Linked DNA regions of Homo sapiens: region 2 is linked to region 1. Evidence: fine-mapped expression QTL. A gene starts in region 1. The other region holds a variant in brackets. All regions are shown on one strand. Distances are between the middles of the regions.

Region 1 (9,489 bases):
GACCAGCCTGGCCAACATGGTGAAACCCCGTCTCTACAAAAAATACAAAAATTAGCCAGGCGCGGTGGCGTGCGGCTGTAACCCCAGCTACTCGGGAGGCTGAGGCAAGAGACTCCTTTGAACCTGGGAGGAGGAGGTTGCAGTGAGCCAAGATTGTGCCACTGCACTACAGCTTAGGCGACAGAGCAAGACTCTGTCTCAAACAAATAAACAAAACCAAATCTTTTGTTCAGATGACATCCTAGGGAAAGTTAAAGAAAACCTACAGGCCGGGCGCGGTGGCTCACGCCTGTAATCCCAGCACTTTGGGAGGCTGAGGCGGGCGGATCATGAGGTCAGGAGATCAAGACCATCCTGGCTAACACGGTGAAACCCCGTCTCTACTAAAAATACAAAAAATTAGCCAGGTGTGGTGCAGGCGCCTGGAGTCCCAGCTCCTCAGGAGGTTGAAGCAGGAGAGTTGCTTGAACTGGTGAGGTGGAGGTTGCAGTGAGCTGAGATCGTGCCACTGCACTCCAGCCTGGGCGACAGAGCGAGACTCCATCTCAAAAAAAAGAAAAAAGAAAACCTACAAAGTAGAAGACAATCACAGCACATAACCCAGAATTTTACTGTCAAGACCATGTAAGGAATATCCATGAATGGATAAAGACAGACAGCCCCACAGCAAAATGGGCAAAAGACGTCAACAGGCACTTCACAGTTAAGGACGTGCCACGTCCCCTAACACGCGCATGGGTTCGGAGGACCAGGACATGGGTTTTTTGGGGAAGGGGGAGATCATCCTGCCTATGGCACCCTCTGGCTCTGCGATTCCTCTCCCAGGAGCACACCCTACAGAAAATCCCACCTGTTGTGTTAGCTTCCCGGGGTCGCCATAACAAAGTACCACAACCTAGGTGGCTTCAACAACAGAGTTGTCTCACGGTTCTGGAAGCCATCGTCTAAAACCGAGTTGATGGCAGGGCCATGCTTCCTCTGAAGGCACGAGGGAAGGGCCTGTTTCAGGCCTCTCTTTTAGCTTCTGCTAGTTCTGTGGCTTGTGGCAGCAAAATTCCAATCTTCATAGGACATTCTCTCTGTGTGCATTTGTATGTCCAAATTTCTCCTTTTTATAAGGACACCGGTCATACCAGATGAGGCACTCACCCTATTCTAGTATGTCCTCCTCTTAGCTACTTACAGGCATCACTGTAAGTCCAAATAAGGTCATATTCTCAGGTCCTGAGGCTTAGAGACAGCCCCGATGGCCACGGTGCCACTGTGTGGATGAATCTCTCGCACAACCCCGAGGAGAAAAAGACAGAGGCCCGCCTGATGCTCTTCCTCTCCCCCTTCCCTTCACTGTCACAGTAGGTTCCCTGGGTAGGGCAGGTGGAGCAGGATCCACAGTGGCCCAGGCTGGGCTGTCGGAGCCTGGCTGGGTGAGGAGGGTGAGGGTATGTGGCTGAGGCTCAGAGCTGTTTGCAGGTGCCTGGCTGGGTGAGGAGGGTGCCGGTGTGCGTGGCTGAGGCTCAGAGCTGGATGTCAGAGCCTGAGAAGAAAGAGGGCGGCCCCAGGTGTGGTCCAGCAGAGGGTATCAGAGCCCAGGCAGGAGAAGAAGGTGTCCACCATGAGAGCCTCCCAGGCCAAGCCTGGGAGTGATGACATATTTGCATAGCTTCCAAATACCTCCTACAAAATGCTTGTGTTTTTGTTTTGTTTTGTTTTTCATTTTGTTTTTTTTTTTTTGAGACGGAGTCTCGCTCTGTCGCCCAGGCTGGAGTGCAGTGGCGCAGGGTCGGCTCACTGCAAACTCCGCCTCCTGGGTTCACGCCATTCTCCTGCCTCAGCCTCCCGAGTAGCTGGGACTACAGGCAACCGCCACCACACCTGGCTAATTTTTGTATTTTTAGTAGAGACGGTTTCACCGTGTTAGCCAGGATGGTCTCGATCTACTGACCTCGTGATCCGCCCTCCTCAGCCTCCCAAAGTGCTGGGATTACAGGCGTGAGCCACTGCACCCGGCCAAAATGCTTGTTAATTACGAAGGAAAAAAGAACTTCCCAGTGGAGATGTTGGCAGATACCACCTTAATCAAGAGCTCAAAGTGAACATCATCAGTAACGTGACAACGTGACCACTGTGAGCCACTGACTGGATGGAATGAACAGGCCACGGTGTCACCTCTGCGACTTTCCTGTCCGAGACGTGCAGTGGGAATCTAATCACGAGGACACAGCAGACGAAACCAAATGGAGGGACTTTCTCCAAAGTAATTGGCCCATGACCTTCAGAGGTGTCAGGGTCATGACAGCCAAAGCAAGGCCAAGGAATGTTCTGGACTGAAGGGGAATAAAGAGGTATGTGAGAATTCAGTGCAAAGTGACTCTAGGCTGGATCCTTCCACGCTGGGGCCCTGATGCAATCAACTGGCAAAGCGTGTTTGACAGGCTGAGGGGTAAACACGGCAACAGGCCTGTGTCCTCTCCTGACTCGGGCCATGTGTGGCTGTGTTGGAGAATGTCCTCGTTTGTGGAAAATACACTCTACAAGGGTGGGGGGCGACAGAGCATCATGAAGGCAACTTACTCTCAAATCCTTCACGAGAAGTTTTTTTGTGCTGAGCTTGCAACTTTTATACAAGTTTGGGATTGTTTCAAAAAATGTTAAAGAATGTATGTGGTATTACATAAAGTTTATATATATTATTAAACTTATATAAACCTTATATAATACCACACATATTCTTTAAAATTTTATATAAATAAATTTATATAAAATTTAAAATAAATGAAAGTTGGCTGGGTGTGGTGGCTCACCGCCTGTAATTCCAGCACTTTGGGAGGCGGAGGTGGGTGGATCATTTGAGATCAGGAGTTCAAGACCATCCTGGCCAACACGCGGAAACCCCGTCTATACTAAAAATACAAAAATTAGCCAGGCATGCTATAATCCCAGCTACTTGGGAGGCTGAGGCAGGAGAATCGCTTGAACCCAGGAGGTGGAGGTTGCAGTGAGCCGAGATCGCCCTGCTGCATTCCAACCTGGGCAACACAGTGAGACTCTGTCTCAAAAAAACAAAAATTTAAAGAATATATGTAGTATTATATGAAGTTTAATATATATTATTAAACTTACATAAAACTATATGTGGCATTATATATAGTCTATATATTTATATTATATATTGTTTATATAACACCACATATATTCTTTAAAATTTTATATAAAGTTTATATAAAGTTTAAAATAAGTGAAAGTTAACTATATTGTTTAGGGACACATGCATAGGTAGTAAAACTAAAGAAATTTATATATCATCTTTAAAATTTTATATAAATATAAAGTTTATATAAAGTTTAAAATAAGTGAAAGTTAACTATATTGTTTAGGGACGCATGCATAGGTAGTAAAACTAAAGAAAAAGTCAGCCATGGTCAAGAAGAGCGGGTCTGTGAGTGGCATGGGGGAGAGACTTTGGGGTGCTGATGAGGTTCTATTTCTTAACTTGGGTAGTGGCTACTGATGTTCGATTTATAACCAATCTCTAAGTCGCACATGCGCATTTATGCACCATCGTTATGCAGAGAATATCAGTCCATTTCTTTTCAACTGTGGGCCCTACAGCAGGCCTGCTTACTACCTCAGTACCTGGCTTATGCAGATAAAAGGAGTATTCCTTTAAGAAAAACAAAATACTAGAGGCAAATCAGCTTCCAAAACTAGGTTATACATACTAAAACTAAATGACTTTGGGGCTATGGACCATGCTCTCCTTTTTAGCTAGGCAGACACTCACGAGTCTTAACTGTTCACCAGACAGGCTGGCCCTTGATTTTTGTTTAATGTTTTTGTAAATGTGTTATAATAATACTTTATTATAACATCTGCTGCAAAGTCAGGGGCGGGTCCCTCAACAGAGGCTGTGCCAGCGCCGGGGTTCCCTGAAACGAACCAGGGACTAGAACTATTAACAAAGTCATTTTTCTGGCACAGCTTTCCGGGAAAGGCGTTTCATATGGGACGGAGTTCTGCCTGGGGGGCGGGGGTCAAACCCTTCCAGCTCAGCCCCAGGGTCAAACGCATCCGCCCCCACACCCACCTCTGGCTGGCCTGGGTCCCAGGTTCTCGGGCTCCGGAGGCACAGACACCCCGGGCTGCTCAGGCAGGCGGCGGTCCTTGGCGATTGCCCTCCGCGGCGCCGGCGGCGTGGTTTGGGGCGGGCAGCTCCATGGCAACGGAAGACTCCATCGTGGCCGGAGGGGGAGCCTCGCCCGTTCTGCTCCCCGGCTGGAGCGGGTGGTTTGGTCCGACCCACCACCGACCGCGCGGGCCGGGGCCGGGGCAAGGAGGTCGCGGGCCCCGAGGCGCGGCTGAAGGGCCAGGCCACAGGCCGCGGGGCGGGGACGTCTCCGGGGTCCCAGACAGCCAGGCCTGGCCCAGGGCCAAGGCTTGGAGGTGACAGACAGACTTGGGGGGCCTGGAGGAGCTCAGCACCGGCGCGTTGGCCCAGAGGACCGGGGCGGGTGCATGATGGTTTGGAGTCGTTTGTCAACCTAAAAAACTAGGAGGTTTCCCGTGAAAATGGGGATTTTCCTCTTCTCTTGCAAATGGAAGATCGGGCTGGGCGCGGTGGCTCACACCTGTCATCCCAACAATTTAGGAGGCCGAGGTGGACGGATCACTTGAGGTCAGGAGTTCGAGACCAGCTTCGCCAACATGGTGAAACCCCGTCTCTTCTAAATATACAAAAATTAGCAGGGCATGGTGGCAGCTGCCTGTAATCCCAGCTACTCAGGAGGCTGAGGCAGGAGAATCGCTTGAATCCAGGAGGAGGAGGTTGCAGTGAGCCAAGATCGTACCACTGCACTCCAGCCTGGATGACAGAGTGAGACTCCGGCTCAAAAAAAAAAAAAAAAAAAAAAAGACTTCTGAATGTTATGTTCCAGCAAAGGCTCCAACTGAAAAATTGTAAAAGTAAATAGCAAAGTCAGTGAGCTATGATGGTGCCATCACACTCTGGCCTGAGCGAAATCAAGACCCTGTTTCAAAATTAAAAACAGCAAAAACCCGGTTGGGCACAGTGGCTCATGCCTGTAATCCCAGCACTTTGGGAGGCTGAGTTGGGCAGATCACTTGAGGTCAGGAGTTCGAGACTATCCTGGTCAACATGGTGAAACCCTGTCTCTACTAAAAATACAAAAATTAGCCGGGTGTGGTGGCGCACACCTGCAGTCCCAGCTACCCCAGAGGCTGAGGCAGGAGAATCGTTTGAACCCGGGAGGTGGAGGTTGCAGCGAGCCAAGATTGCGCCACTGCACTCCAGCCTGAACGACAGAGCGAGACTCTGTCTCAAGACAAACAAACAAACAAAAAACAAAACGGAAGATGGGCCCAACATGCCAAGCCGGTTCCGACGTTCCCCATTGCCTTTCCCACAGTCCCCATCCCCCGCTGCCCAGCCCATCTCACTGTGCATCCTGTTACACCGGAGCCTCTTCTCGCACCGCTGGTCCGTGGGGGCCGTTTGCAATGGAGACATGGGAGTGTGAGGAAAGGGAGTGGTCTCTCACCGGGCCACTCTATGCCAAGAACTGGGCTCACGAGTGAATTGGACGCGTCCCCTACCCTGGCAGTCTTTCAGCCCGCCATGTGTAGGGCTTGCAGGGTGGCCGGCTCCTGATGCCACAGTGAGGCCTGGGAGGTCCTTTGGTTTTATCCTGGCCCATAACCTGATCCATCAGAGGCAAGACACCTTGCAGAATGCCCAGCACCCGTGAGAATGGCTGTGGAAAGTAGCTGGGTGACACCACAGCACCTCTGCACTCACCCACCTTCCGCAGTGCCAGATCGCTTTCCTCCTCAGAATCTGAGGAATAGAACCAAGCCACCATTACCAGCCCAGGTTCGCTTTTATAAGAGAGATTATACTTCTTCCCGACTCCACGGAAATGATAGGGCTTCTTCCTTATCAACTTTGCCTCCCTGGACCTTTCCCAATGAACTGTTAATATACTTTCTAGGAAAGGGCCGGGCACAGTGGCTCACGCCTATAATCCCAGCACTTTGGGAGGCCAAGGCAGGTGGATCACCTGAGGTCAGGAGTTCGAGACCCGCCTGGCCAACATGGTGAAACCCCTGTCTACTAAAATACAAAAACTAGCTGGGCGTGGTGGCGCATGCCTGTAATCCCAGCTACTCGAGAGGCTGACACAGGAGAATCACTTGAACCTAGGAAGCAGAGTTTGCAGTGAGCCAAGATCACACTACTGCACTCCAGCCTGGGCAACAGAGCGAGACTCCAACTCTCTCTCTCTCTCTCTCTCTCGTTCTCTCTCTCTCTCTCTCTATATATATATATATACTGTCTAGGAAAGAAGGAAAGGACAGTGACAGCCTGAGAACAGCCCCGTGTCCATGGAACTGGTTGGTTAAGGAAGCTGTGGAACAGCTACACGATGGAGGTCAGCTGTAAAGAAGGTATAAGGACCATTTATTTCTATGTTCTGCTGTGGAGTGACTCCAGAACATATTGTTAAGTAAAAAAAATTGAGCCAGGCATGGTGGCTTGAGCCTGTAGTCCCAGCTACTTGGGAAGCTGCAGGATGGATTGCTCAAGCCCAGGAGTTTGAGGCTACAGTGAGCTATGATTGTACCACTGTACTCCAGCCCTGGCAACATAGTGAACCCCATCTCAAAAAAGAAAAAAAAAATCCAGCCAGGTGCAGCGGCTCACGCTTCTAATCCCAGCACTTTGGGGGGCAAGGTGGGAGGATCGCTTGAGTCCAGGAGTTTGAGACCAGCCTGGGCAACATGGTGAAACTCTGACTCTAAAAAAATACAAAAAAAATTAGCCGGCCATGGCGGTGCACACCTGTAGCCCCAGCTACTCGGGAGGCTGAGGTGGGAGGACCTCTTGAGCCTGGGAGATTGATGCTGCCCTGAGCTGTGACTGTGTCACTGCACTCCAGCTTGGGTGACAAGTGAGATCCTGTCTCAAAAAAAAAAAAAAATCAAGATGCAGAAAAGTGTGTATAGTATTTATGTAAGAAGGAGCAGTGGCAATAAGAATATATATATATTTTTACATTAAAAAGGTTACTATCTGGGGCAGAAGGACACAGGAATAGAAAGTAGATCTCTTTAAATGTGCTTACATTCAGTTATAGAACTGTGTAATTAGAAAACCAAAAATAAATCAAAATAGAAAAGCATCTAAAACTTGGAGACAGAATGAAACAAATGAACCTAATTGTATGGCATGTGGGGGGGTTAGCCATACAAAAAAGGATAATTTTGAGTGACTTTTTATTTTTATTTTTAGACAGAGTCTCGCTGTGTCACCCAGGCTGGAGTGCAATGGAGTGATCTTGGCTCACTGCAACTTCCACCTCCTGGATCCAAGCAATTCTCCTGCCTCAGCCTCCCAAGTAGCTGAGATTACAGGCATGAGCCTCAATGCCTGGCTAGTTTTTTGTATTTTTAGTAGAGATGGGGTTTCACCATGTTGGCCAGGCTGGTCTCGAACTCCTGAGCTCAAGTGATCTGCCCGCCTTGGCCTCAGAAAGTAACTTTTTCAAAGAGACAATGTCTGGCTCTGTTCCCCAGACTGGAGTGCGGCGACTCCATCATGGCTCCCCGCAGCCTCCACCTCCTGCGCTCAAGAGAGCCTCCCACCTCAGCCTCCCAAGCAGCGGGGACTACATGTGTATACCACCATGCCCAGCTAATTCATTTCTATTTTATTTTATTATTATTATTTTTTGAGACAGAGTCTCGCTCTGTCGCCCAGGCTGGAGTGCAGTGGCGCAATGTCAGCTTACTGCAAGCTCCACCTCCCAGGTTCATGCCATTCTCCTGCCTCAGCCTCCCGTGTAGCTGGTCATTTTTATTTTTATTTTTGCAGAGATGAGGTCTCACTATCTTTTCCAGGCTGGTGTAGAACTCCTGGCCTCAAGAAATCCTTGAGTTGCAGTGAGCTGAGATGTGCAACTGCACTTCAGCCTGGGCGACAGAACAAGACTCCATCTCAAAAAAAAAAAAAAAAGAAAAAGAAAAAACAAATAAGTAATACAGGGAAGGTGGTTAAGTTTTGTGTATATTTTACCACATTAAAAAGTTTTAATCAGGCCATGCGCAGTGGCTCACACCTGTAATCCCAGCACTTTGCAGGGCCAAGGTGGATGGATCACTTGAGGTCAGGAGATCGAGACCAACCTGACCAACATGGTAAAACCCCGTCTCTACTAAAAATACAAAAATTAGCTGGGCGTGGTGGTGGGCACCTGTAATCCCAGCTACTCGGGAGGCTGAGGCAGGAAAATCACTTGAACCCGGGAGGCGGAGGTTGCAGTGAGCCTAGATTGTACCACTGTACTCTAGCCTGGGCAACAGTGCAAAAACTCTGTCCAAAAAAAAAATTAAATCAAATAAAATGTAAAATTGCATTCCTCAGTGGCAGTAGCCACATTGCAGGTGCTGAGTAGTCCTCTGTGGCCGGTGGCTACCCCAGTGGACAGCACAGACATGAAACAAGGACCCTCATTCCTGGGATTGTGCTGGACTACAAACGGTCACCAGTCCCGGTGCGAGGAGCACACAGACCATTGTTTCTTCCTGCCATTTCCCTTGAAAAGAAACCATGGCTTCTTGGAAAAATGACGGATTTCAGACATGAGGCAGAAAACATACAAGATGACCCCAGAACATCTCATCATAACAGCAAGCAGGAAAATTAACACAGATTCTAGTTTGTCTCGGAGGATCCATTTGCCAGTTTGAAGGGGCTCTCACTGGCGAAAGTAAGCATCAACTGAGTATCAAAAGGAAAAGTAAATTGCAGTGGATTGAAGCACTTCAAATATATTAGTGTCCACGAGTTCATTCAGCCTGGGCGACATAGTGAGACCCCGGCTCTATAAAAAATAATTTAAAAAAATTATCTGGAGCCGGGTGAAGTGGCTCACGCCGGTAATCCCAGCACTTTGGGAGGTTGGGGCGGGCAGATGACAAGGTTGGGAGTTCCAGACCAGCCTGGCTGACATGGTGAAACCCCATCTCTACTAAAAATACAAAAATTAGCCAGGCATGGTGACAGGTGCCTGTAGTCCCAGGGACCCAGGAGGCTGAGGCAGGAGAATCACTTGAACCCGGGAGGTGGAGGTTGCAGTGAGCTGAGATTGTGCCATTACACTCCAGCCTGGGTGACAGAGTGAGACTTTGTCTCAAAGAAAAAAAAAAAATGCTGGGCACGGTGGCTCACGCCTGTAATCCCAGCACTTTGAGAGGCCGAGGCAGGCAGATCATGAGGTCAAGAGATCGAGACCATCCTGGACAACATGGTGAAACCGTCTCTACTAAAAACACGAAAATTAGCTGGGTGTGGTGGTGCGTACCTGTATTCCCAGCTACATAGGAAGCTGAGGCAGGAGAATCGCTTGAACTCGGGAGGAGGAGCTTGCAGTGAGCTGAGATCGCACCGCTGCACTCCAGCCTGGTGACAGAGCG
Region 2 (9,489 bases), 80 kb before region 1:
CGCCCACAGGAGCCCTCGCCCACGAGACGCCCCCATTCGCTGGGCCTCCACTCAATGCAAACCCCGCCCACTGGCCCCATGCCCAACGTAAGCCTCGCCCACCATACCCCGCTCAGCGCAATCCCCTCCCACTGGGCCACGCCCAACGTGTTCAGAGGGCTTGTCCGCCACAAGCCCTACCCCGCAGCTCCACCTGGCCCAGACTCGTGAGGCGACGGTGGGTCTCGTCCTCAGCCCGGGCACGGCGCCTTAACCTCGGCCGAGCGTGGCCTGCTCTGCTGCTGGTCTGGGCGTGGCCCGGGGACCCTCGGGAGCTGGCCTGGAAAGTCGTGGCTGCCTTGGGTGTGGTCCCTCGGGTCCAGTCTCGCAGGCGGGCTCCAGGTGGACTGTAGGGTAACGCCACCAAGATGCTGGGCATCCCGAACTTGGTGTTTGGACACTTGATTGTGGACCTGCGCTGCAGGCGCTGTCTGGGGGCTGGCCCAGGGGGCTGGAGCCTGGCCCTGGCTCTGGGCTGTTGAGGCGCTGGGTGCAGACCACTTTCCCAAAGCACTTGGCCTTGGGGGCCATGCCCCACCTGGGGAATGTGACCTCCATTCCCGAGGGCCACAGGGAGCCCAGTGCCCTTCCCTCAGCCTGCAATGTCTGCTGCTCCCTGTGCAGGGGCAGGCCTGGGGCCATTTCTTCCAGGGGGACCCCAGACCCTTATCCCTCTGCCACCAGGCCAGGGGCCCTGTTAGGCTCTTGGTGCCCTCTGCTCCCCGTGGGACCAACAGCACACCGTCTCTCTGGTGGTCAGGCTAAGGGAGGTGGTCAGCACAGCAAGGGGCAGGGTCCATCTTACTGCAGGAGGGGCATGCACCCCTTGCTCAGAACTGTTCCACATGTGGGCGCTGCTCAGTGTCCCCCACCCCTACCACAAGGGCAGTGACCCTGGAGGGCAGGGCCTCCTCTGCGTGGCTCTTCTGCCCATACCTGCCCCTTCACTGCATCACTCCTTCCACTGTTGGGCTCTGCCTGAAGTTGCCTTTCACCTCCCAAGGCCTGTGCCACGGTCCTCAAGGGCCCTTCCTGCCTGCCCAGCTCCCCCAGCCCCTGGCCCTTCTTCCTGCCACATTGACTGCACTGGTCGTGGAGGCCCAGCACGGGAGTGGGAATGGGAGTGCATGTGCACAGCACAGCCTGAGGCCACAGCCCCGAGTTCCGGAAGGTGTGGGCACGGCCCCCACGCAGGAGCTGGGCGGGCCTCGCCACTCAGTACCAGAGGCCTGCCAGCAGGAGAGTCGGGTCAGGGTTTAGAAGAGAGGGGCCTATTCAGGAAACATTGCCATCCAGTAGCACCTCCTCCTGCGGCCGGGGCCTGGCCTGGACCTGGCGGAACCTGCCTTCCCCTCCCATCTGGTGTGGCGCAAGCTTGAGCCATGGTGGGTCGGCCGCAGGAAGGGCAGCAAGGGACCCATTGGACAGAAATCCTGCAAAACGCCACTGCGGGGTCAATGTCACTGGCTTGAAGTTTGGGGCAATGGCAAGTTCCTAGGCACTGTGGGCCCTGGGGGGCTGGGGGTGAGGGCAGGCAGCTCAAGACCGGCGTCCCTGAGGCCTGTGCCCAGGAAAGCTCCCAGAAGCACCATCTGCTCCCCCGACCCGGCCAGGGAAGGCTGCGTACAGTCTGCTGGTGGCTGCTGGTTGGGGTGGCACAGTGGGTGTGCTGCACTGACAGGAGGGCCAGGCTGGGTGGGCTCTGTGGGGACAGCGTCCAACAAGCCAGACTCCAGAGGGCAGGGTTGGGGTGCAGGCACCACTCTGAGCTTCAGGAGCATCTCACGGGCTGCGAGGGGTCTTCTCTGTTGAAGGGTGGGTCAGAGCCCAGAAAGCCGAGCCCAGACTTATCTCAGACAAATAGAGACTTCAGTGCAGGAGCTGGGCCTCACCTGGCCCCTGCTGGGTGGAGGGGAGGGCATGAGTAGGCTGGGGGGTCCCCACCGTCTGCTCACCTTTGCTTGGGGTCATCCGGGGTCCTGGAACTTGGGAAAAGTCTGGAGGTTCCCGGGGCCTGCCCTGGGCTTTGCAGCCCTGCCCTCCCCACCACCCAGGCCCCTCGGTTCTGGGTCAGCCTCAGCTCTAGCTGTACCCCGGCCCTCTGGGCTGCCTGCTGCTGCTCAGGGTGCCAGGCTTGGGGGCTCTCCTTGAATTTGGGTCAGGGTGGCCTCCCCACAGGTGTCCTGCAGGATGGCCCCACTCTAGGAGGCCCTTGCCAGGCAAAGCGGGTGTCATGGCTGTGAGGGGAGGGGCTGCTTCCCCAGGGCTCTGTCCCCACCTCCCATTCTGTGCTCACCCCAGGGAATAACCTGCTGTCACCCACACTGCAGGCTGCATGTGTTGGCCTACAAAAAATTTATTGACAGGCTGTGGAGGGCTCTCCTGGGGGCTGGGGGCTCTGAGGGGGTCTGGCTAGGATGGCTGAGGGCTGGCCTGGCCTTCTCGCTGCTTCTGAGTCTGGGGTCTCAGGAGGGGTGCTCTTGGATGTCCCTGGGCTTGCGGGGTCCAGGGCAGCAGGAAGTGGCCGTGGCGCCATGTGGAGGGCGGCCTATTGGAATCTGGCAGAGGATGGCCAGGTCCCAGGCTCTAGGGTAGTATGACCTGGCCCTCAGCCTGGGGAGGGCTTTGAGGGTGGACAGGAGGGCCCGAGGGTGCTCTGTGCAGAGGCTTAGGGGCCAGTCAACACCTGGGCTACAAAGATGACCTTGTAGGTCTCCTTCACATCCCCCCTTAGCTGCAGCAGGGCCGACACCATGAGTGGGTGGTCTGGCTGGAACAGGAGGGGAGGGGAGAAGAGGCCTTCAGTCAGTGGGCACCCAGAGGAGATCTGCTGTCTTCCCACTGCCCTGCCCACCTGACTCCCTTGGGTCCTCCACGGCCACCTCCTCCCCTGGGACTGGGCAGGGGTGTCAGCCCACCCAGCCTTTGGCGTTCCCAGGGCTCCCTGGCCTGGAGCCCAAAGGCACCTACATCAAAGTCCGCAGGTGGCACCCAGGAGATGCTGATGGTCTTCGTCTGGCCGCGCTCCACGGAGCCCCTGGAGGGCTCAATAGAGAAACCCTTGTGCTGCAGGGATGCGACGCTGTCTATGCTGAACTCAACGGTCTGTGGGGTATGGGGCTCCTGTAGGCTGGCGACCAGGCACCGCTCCCAGAAGCAGTGGGACTAGGGGTGAGGGTGCCCAGCTCCACTCACCCTCCCAGCTCTGACCAGGCTGCCCACCCCACAGCTGCCACAGGAAGTCCGAGAAAAGCCCGGCTGTCAGGACAAGCCCAGTGAGGGGCAAGGCCAGGAGGGTCAGGGCTGCCCAGGGCAGGGGAGGCCGAGGGGGCTGCCTGGTGTCCCCAGGGGCAGTGCTGTGGGCACCTTCTTTGGAGATGGCTGGGTGGTCCGGATACAGCCCACCTGCAGCTCTCGGGTGGCAGGTGGGGCTGGCGTGTCTGTGTCAAACTGGATGTAGTCCAGGGTCACCAGGATGGGCCTCAGCTCCTCAGCTTCTGGAGAGAGAGGGCCTGGCCGGGAGCTGGCTGGAGGGGTGTGGCCAGGGGAGCTGTTCAGGGTCAGGCTGAGGCATGGGGTGAGGCTGCAGCTGGACTCCTGAACTCTGGTTAGCAGTGGCTGTCCTGCTTGGCTCTGGGGTAGAAGGCTGGGAATCCCTGCCCTGCTCCGCTGGGTCTCGGGGCCCCCATCCACGGGACAGGGGCACCGGGAGGCCCCGTGTCTGTTCCCTCCCTGGGGAGGGGCTCACCCTCTCTGTGCCTGGGGTCAAATACAGGGATCGCTGTCAGAGACTCCACGGGCACGTCCAGGGGGTCGCCGCCCTCCACGAACATCATGTGCTGACAGGCGGCACCCTTCAGCAGGATCTGGTGGGAGATTTTCTGGGGACAAGAAGTGGAGTGGCCTTGTCCCCGAAGCTCGGCGGCAGGGGTCCTGCTGGTGAGAGCTGGGCTGGCTCAGGGAAGGAAGCAGGGACGGCCTGGGGGCCCCGTGGGGCCCTGGACTCTGGTCTTTCCACTGACGGCCCTCAGTGTGGTGCTGAGTCCCCCAGCCATGGTACCCTCAGGGCCTCCAAAGTGGAGCAGTGCAGCCAAAGGCAAGGCCCTGCGTGGGGCCAGGGCCGGGCCGGGCTGAGCTTGCAGAGCCAGAGCCGCACCTTTTCAAAGAGCACCACCTGGAGCTTGTCGGAGAAGTAGAGGCTTTCGTGGTCGGGGCTGAAGGTGACAGTGAAGTCTTGTGTCTTCCCGGGGTCCATGACGCCCTTGACGGGGGCCACGCTGAACACGCTCTGACCGTTGAGATTCTGCGTCCCTGCGGGTAGGGTGGGGTGCAGTTTGGCCTTCTCCACCTGCAATCACTGTCTGCCCTCCAAGCCTTGCTGCATAGAGCTCTACACCCTGCCCGCCCCCCTGCAGAGCCCCTGTCCTGCCCGGTCCCCCCAATGGCCTTGCGCCCCCCACTCCTCCCATGGATCCAAGCGCCCACCCCCCCCATCTCACCAACCGCCCCCTCCAGCTCACTGCCCACCCCCCCAGCTCACCGCCCACCCCCCACCTCACCAACTGCCCCCCACCCAGCTCACCGCCCGTGCCCGCCAGCTCACCGACCACCCCCCTCCAGCTCACCACCCGCCCCTGCCAGTTCACCGCCCGCAGCCCATCTCATTGCCCAGCCCCCTATCTCACCAACTGTCCCCCTCCAGGCCACTGCCTACTCCCCCAGCTCACCGCCCACCCCCGCAGCTCACCACCCACCCCCCACCCCCCGCTCACCGACCACCTCCGTCCTCTGGGAGGGCGAGCTGAGGAACTGCGGCAGCTGCTGCTGGCCCCGGCCCCGGGTGCTGGAGAGGCTGTCCAGGTGCATGGAGAACTTGATGGGGAGCAGAGAGTTGTTCTGCAGCTGCAGAGAGCAGGCCGCGGTCACTGCCCGCCAGCCCCTGCCTGGCTGCCCCCTTCCTGTCGTCGGTGCCCAGGACTTGGCTGGTGCTATGAGGCCACACCCAAGTGGGGACCCGGGTGGCCTGATGACGCCAGCACA[C/T]GTGGCGGTTTATTGAGCTGTGTGCCAACATCCCTTCTTCCAGCCTCTCATCAGCCTTTGCTAGGCCGGGGCTCGGCTTCCCTGCCTAGGGTGCGTGGACAGCTCTGGGGTGTCACCTGTCCTCCAGGGCGCCTGAGTCTCGCTCAGGCCCAGCTTAGCTGAACCCACGTCCCCACCTGTGTCCTCCCTGCCCTCACCCCCTCTCCTTAGAGCACCCTTTCTCCATGCAACGCCCGTCTCGGGCTCTGCCTCCAGGACCCGCCCTGAGCCAGGCGGAGAAGCAGGTGTCCCTCCCGGACCCACACTCGTGCGAAGGCATGAGGGCACACGCTGGTGCGAAGGCATGAGGGCACACGCTGGTGTGAAGGCATGAGGGCACACACTGGTCCAAAGGCATGAGGGCACACACTGGTGCGGAGGCATGAGGGCACACACTGGTGCGAAGGCATGAGGGCACACGCTGGTGCGAAGGCATGAGGGCACGCAGGGCAGGGCGAAGGCATGAGGGCACGCAGGGCAGGGCGAAGGCATGAGGGCACATGGGGCAGCGTGAAGGCATGAGGGCACACGCTGGTGTGAAGGCATGAGGGCACACAGGGCAGCGCGAAGGCACGAGGGCACACGCTGGTGCAAAGGCATGAGGGCACACGCTGGTGTGAAGGCATGAGGGCACACGCTGGTGTGAAGGCATGAGAGCACACAGGGCAGTGCGAGGCATGAGAGCACGCAGGGCAGTGCGGCTCACTGCAGAGGGCTGCAAACCCTTGCCCCCGGTGGCTGAGCTGAGCTCCAAAGGAGTGAGTTCAAGCAGCAGGGCAGGGGGTGGGTGGTGGGTGGGGGAGCTCTGTGCAGGGGCTGAGGAGGAGGGACAAAGAGCGCCAAGGAGGACAGGGAGGTGGGGAGGACTAGGGGACATCTGCAGCCTCCCCAGAAACAGGCCCCGGGTTCCCTGCAGGAGAGGGCGGCAGAGGCGGCAGCTGTGTAGAGGAGGGGTAGAGGGGGCCACCTGTGTCCCCACGGGCTCTCCGACCCACGGGTCACTTTTGACAGCTGGCCTGAGTCCTGCCTGGTGGAAACCCCTCCTGGGAGGCTGGAGCCAGCACCAGGGCCCACGTGTGCTTCACCTTGAAGCCTGAGGACACAGACTCTCCGGCAATCACATAGCCCATGTTGAGGACGCTGCCTTCAATGGAGCACGTGATCATGGACGCCACGCCAGTGCCCATGAGGGTGAGGGTGAGCGTGCCTCTCTTGGTGATGATGTCCAGTGTTTCTTGAGCCTAAAGAGACCACATCGCTCAGCCAGGAACCGATGTCTGCTGGAGCCACGAGGGGAGCTCTGCCTCAGGGGCAGTGGGTTCTCAACGCTGGAGTTGAGACAGCTCTGGGGGGGCTCTGTCAGCTCCGCTCACTTGGCGGCTGGTGTGAGGGCCTGGGGGCCAGGCTGCTCGCAGACCCAGGCTTAGTCCCAGGCCTGAGCACAGGTGATGCCCGCCCCGGCCAGTGCCTTTGTTCTGCAGTGTGGGGAGCCTTGGGCCGCAGTGTGGCCAGGGTGGGCCTGGGACTCACCAGGATGCTCTCGTGGGGAGAGAAGGAAAGCACCAGGACCTGGGTCCCACCTGCACGCAGCAGGCTGGAGTGGTTCAGCAGGACAAAGGGGCCGTTGGGGTTCAGCAGGGAGAAGTCCAGCTGAGGGTCCACGTCAAGGAGGGGATACAGGTGTCTGCAGGCTCTACCACGCCCTCCCCGGTCCCCGCTCCCACCCCGCAGGCCGCCTGAGCTGGGTGGACAAGGACACGGCCAGATCCTCGGGAGAGACGTTCTGGATGGAGATCTTCTTGATACTGCGGTGCCCTGAAATGGGGCAGGGAGCGTCAGGCCCCAGCCCCAGGCCCCAGGGAGCGTCTCTGCCAGGGGTGGGCCGTGGGGCTGGGGGAGGCGTGGGTGTGCCTGGGCACCGGGGTGGAGGTGTGGGCGGGGCTTAGCGTCTCACCCACAGCGACGTCGCCGAAGTTAAAGATGGTCTTGCCTTTATGGGACGTCACCACAACAGATGGTGCCACCGTCGGGCACCACAGCTCCAGGTACAGGGTGTTGTGGGGGCTGGGATAGGAAGGGCATGCTGAGGGCAGGGTGGGCGGCCCCCTGCCCGCCCAGGCCCCAGAGTTGGGCAGTAGCAGAGGGACAGCGCGTTTGCGGCTGACCACACCCTGTTCTGGCCAGAGCACCCCGCACCTGAAGCTCAGGGGTTCTGACCCCTTCCTGTCTTTGATGTCGCCACTGGCAACAACACAGGGAACTACAAATGTGTCAAACTTCGCCTGGAACGCTCTGAGCAGGGTGGCTCGGGCGGCCTGGTACTCGTCGGAACTAGAAGGAAGTCAGAGGCTTGCGCTCCCGCCTTGCCCCCACCCACCATCGGCCCAGGCCGGACCCCTGCGGCTCTGCCTCAGGGTCCCAGGGTCCCAGGGTCCCAAGCTGTGGCTGTCCCAGTTGTGTCTGACAAACTGGCTTTTCCACCCTTCTCTGGCTCCTGTGGGGGTCTCATCACTCACTTCAGGTCCTCGTCAGCTGGTGGCTGGAGGCTAGGGGTTGGGGCAGGTGCCTTTGGCCCCTGGCTAGAGAGCCATGTTCCTTCCCGGGGCCACAGGCACCCATTAGAGCTTTCCCAGGGCTCATTCTGCACCCGGGGGGCTGGGTGGGGGGTGGTGGCTTTGCTCCCCACCCGTGGATTGAGGCTGTGTGCAGGGGTGTCAGGCCTGGGGAAATGGGGTGGGTAGGTCCCAGGAAGGCAGCACCTGGATCCAGCTGTGTCTGAAGGCATCAGTCCTTCCAGCCACATGGGTCATTCCGGGCAATCTGTAGGGAGGGGACTCTACAGGGGCCACAGTGGGTCCCACCAGAGGGGCCTGGAGGGAAGCAGGTGGGGCAGCCCCTCCTGGACCCACCTGGGCCTCAGCTCCCGCTTCCGCATCTCCAGGACGTGGGGGACAGAGACTTTGAACAGCTTGTCGCGGTTCTGTGCTCGAAGAACGGAGAATGACAGTCCATGCAGGTCCTTCCTCTGGGGGGCCATATTCTTTCGGAACTGTGGGGGGAGCGACTGGCTGTGGGGCTGTGCAGGGCCCTAAACACAGCCAGCTGTGCCCCGTGGCTCCTCTGCGGCCAGTGCGGGAACCGCGGGAGCCGCAGTTGGGATTGAATGTGGGGACGCAAAAGCCGACCGGCGCCCGAGGAAGACAGTAGCCAGTGCGGAGGGGCACACAGACCCCCACAGAGCTGCTCACAGACTGTGGCGTCTGCTTCACCAGAGGATAAACCGAGGCACGGAGTGAGGAGGCGGCCAGAACCGGGGTCCCCACCCTGGTGCCTTCCCCTATCTTCACCGCGGAAGGCCGAAGGCAAGTGCTTCCCCTCGAGTGCACGCCCAGGAGGAACCCAGGCCGGGAAAGGCAAACCCTTGGGAGGAAGCCAGGCCGGGAAGGGCAAACCCTTGGGAGGAAGCCAGGCCGGGAAGGGCAAACCCTTGGGAGGAAGCCAGGCCGGGAAGGGCAAACCCTTGGGAGGAAGCCAGGCCGGGAAGGGCAAACCCTTGGGAGGAAGCCAGGCCGGGAAGGGCAAACCCTTGGGAGGAAGCCAGGCCGGGAAGGGCAAACCCTTGGGAGGAAGCCAGGCCGGGAAGGGCAAACCCGTGGGAGGAAGCCAGGCTGGGAAGGGTGCATCTGGAGTGTGGCAGGAGCCTCGAGGCCACCTCCAGGGCCGGCACTTGTGGGGCAGATTCTGCAGGACACTCCGTGTTTCAGGTGCGCCTCCCGGGGCCTCCAGGTTGTTGGAGGGGCCCTTCATTGCATCCGCTGCACCCCTGGGTCACAGCCCCTACTGCCCCCACCTCCAGAGCCCACCCTTCCCTGCTCCCGCCTGGCAGTGCCTTCCAGAGAGAAGGGAGGGTCTTGGTGAGCAAGCTTTTTAACCTCAGATACAGCTCGACACGTGCATTGCTTGGGAAAGGTCTACCCTGTGCTCCCGGCACGTGGCCGGAGCCCCCCAGGACTCGAAGGCGGTGGAGTTTGTTCCTGCAACAGGCCCTTCCCCGACCTACGCCCCTCCTTCCCGGGCCCCACGCACAGATTTGGTCTCCATTTCTTTGTTCAGGAGTGGGAGGGCTTCCTGGCGGATCAGCTTCTCGGGCAGCACTGGCCGGAAGGCCACCTGGACCAGGCACCTCTGAGGAGAGACCAGCGTGGGCACAGGGGTTGCCACTTCCCTCCACCTCCCCGGAGCCCCTGCGGGCACTCTACCGTCCTCTGCCCGTGGACTCCCCTCAAGGTCACCTCCCCCTTGAGATTTCAGGCTGCGTGCCCCTTCAGGAAGCCCCTCCCTGACCTCTGTCCCCCAGGAGGCTGGGCGGGC

What was found. PIP is the estimated chance that this variant, and not a neighbour inherited with it, causes the effect. A credible set is the group of variants that fine-mapping cannot tell apart.
Region 2: its variant is the best candidate, but not a certain one, in a credible set for the expression of CFAP74 in prefrontal cortex (BrainSeq, PIP 0.84).

What each region holds. Positions count from the first base shown.
Region 1 is chr1:1,999,617-2,009,105 of GRCh38, forward strand. It overlaps CFAP74 (cilia and flagella associated protein 74), which reads right to left and starts at 4,170. Exons shown (of 39, transcript NM_001304360.2): 1 at 4,085-4,170. RefSeq lists a silencer at 4,034-4,328.
Region 2 is chr1:1,919,580-1,929,068 of GRCh38, forward strand. CFAP74 (cilia and flagella associated protein 74) reads right to left here. Exons shown (of 39, transcript NM_001304360.2): 27 at 9,205-9,303; 28 at 8,028-8,167; 29 at 7,315-7,449; 30 at 7,073-7,182; 31 at 6,878-6,933; 32 at 6,649-6,768; 33 at 6,204-6,359; 34 at 4,812-4,941; 35 at 4,196-4,350; 36 at 3,788-3,920; 37 at 3,406-3,566; 38 at 3,010-3,144; 39 at 2,378-2,809. The coding sequence ends at 2,708. Among named protein-coding and RNA genes, the nearest start is that of TMEM52, 5.0 kb to the left of the region's middle. RefSeq lists enhancers at 1-471, 472-1,064, 3,763-4,263 and a silencer at 2,678-2,862. The variant C/T (reference allele first, on the strand shown) is at 5,080.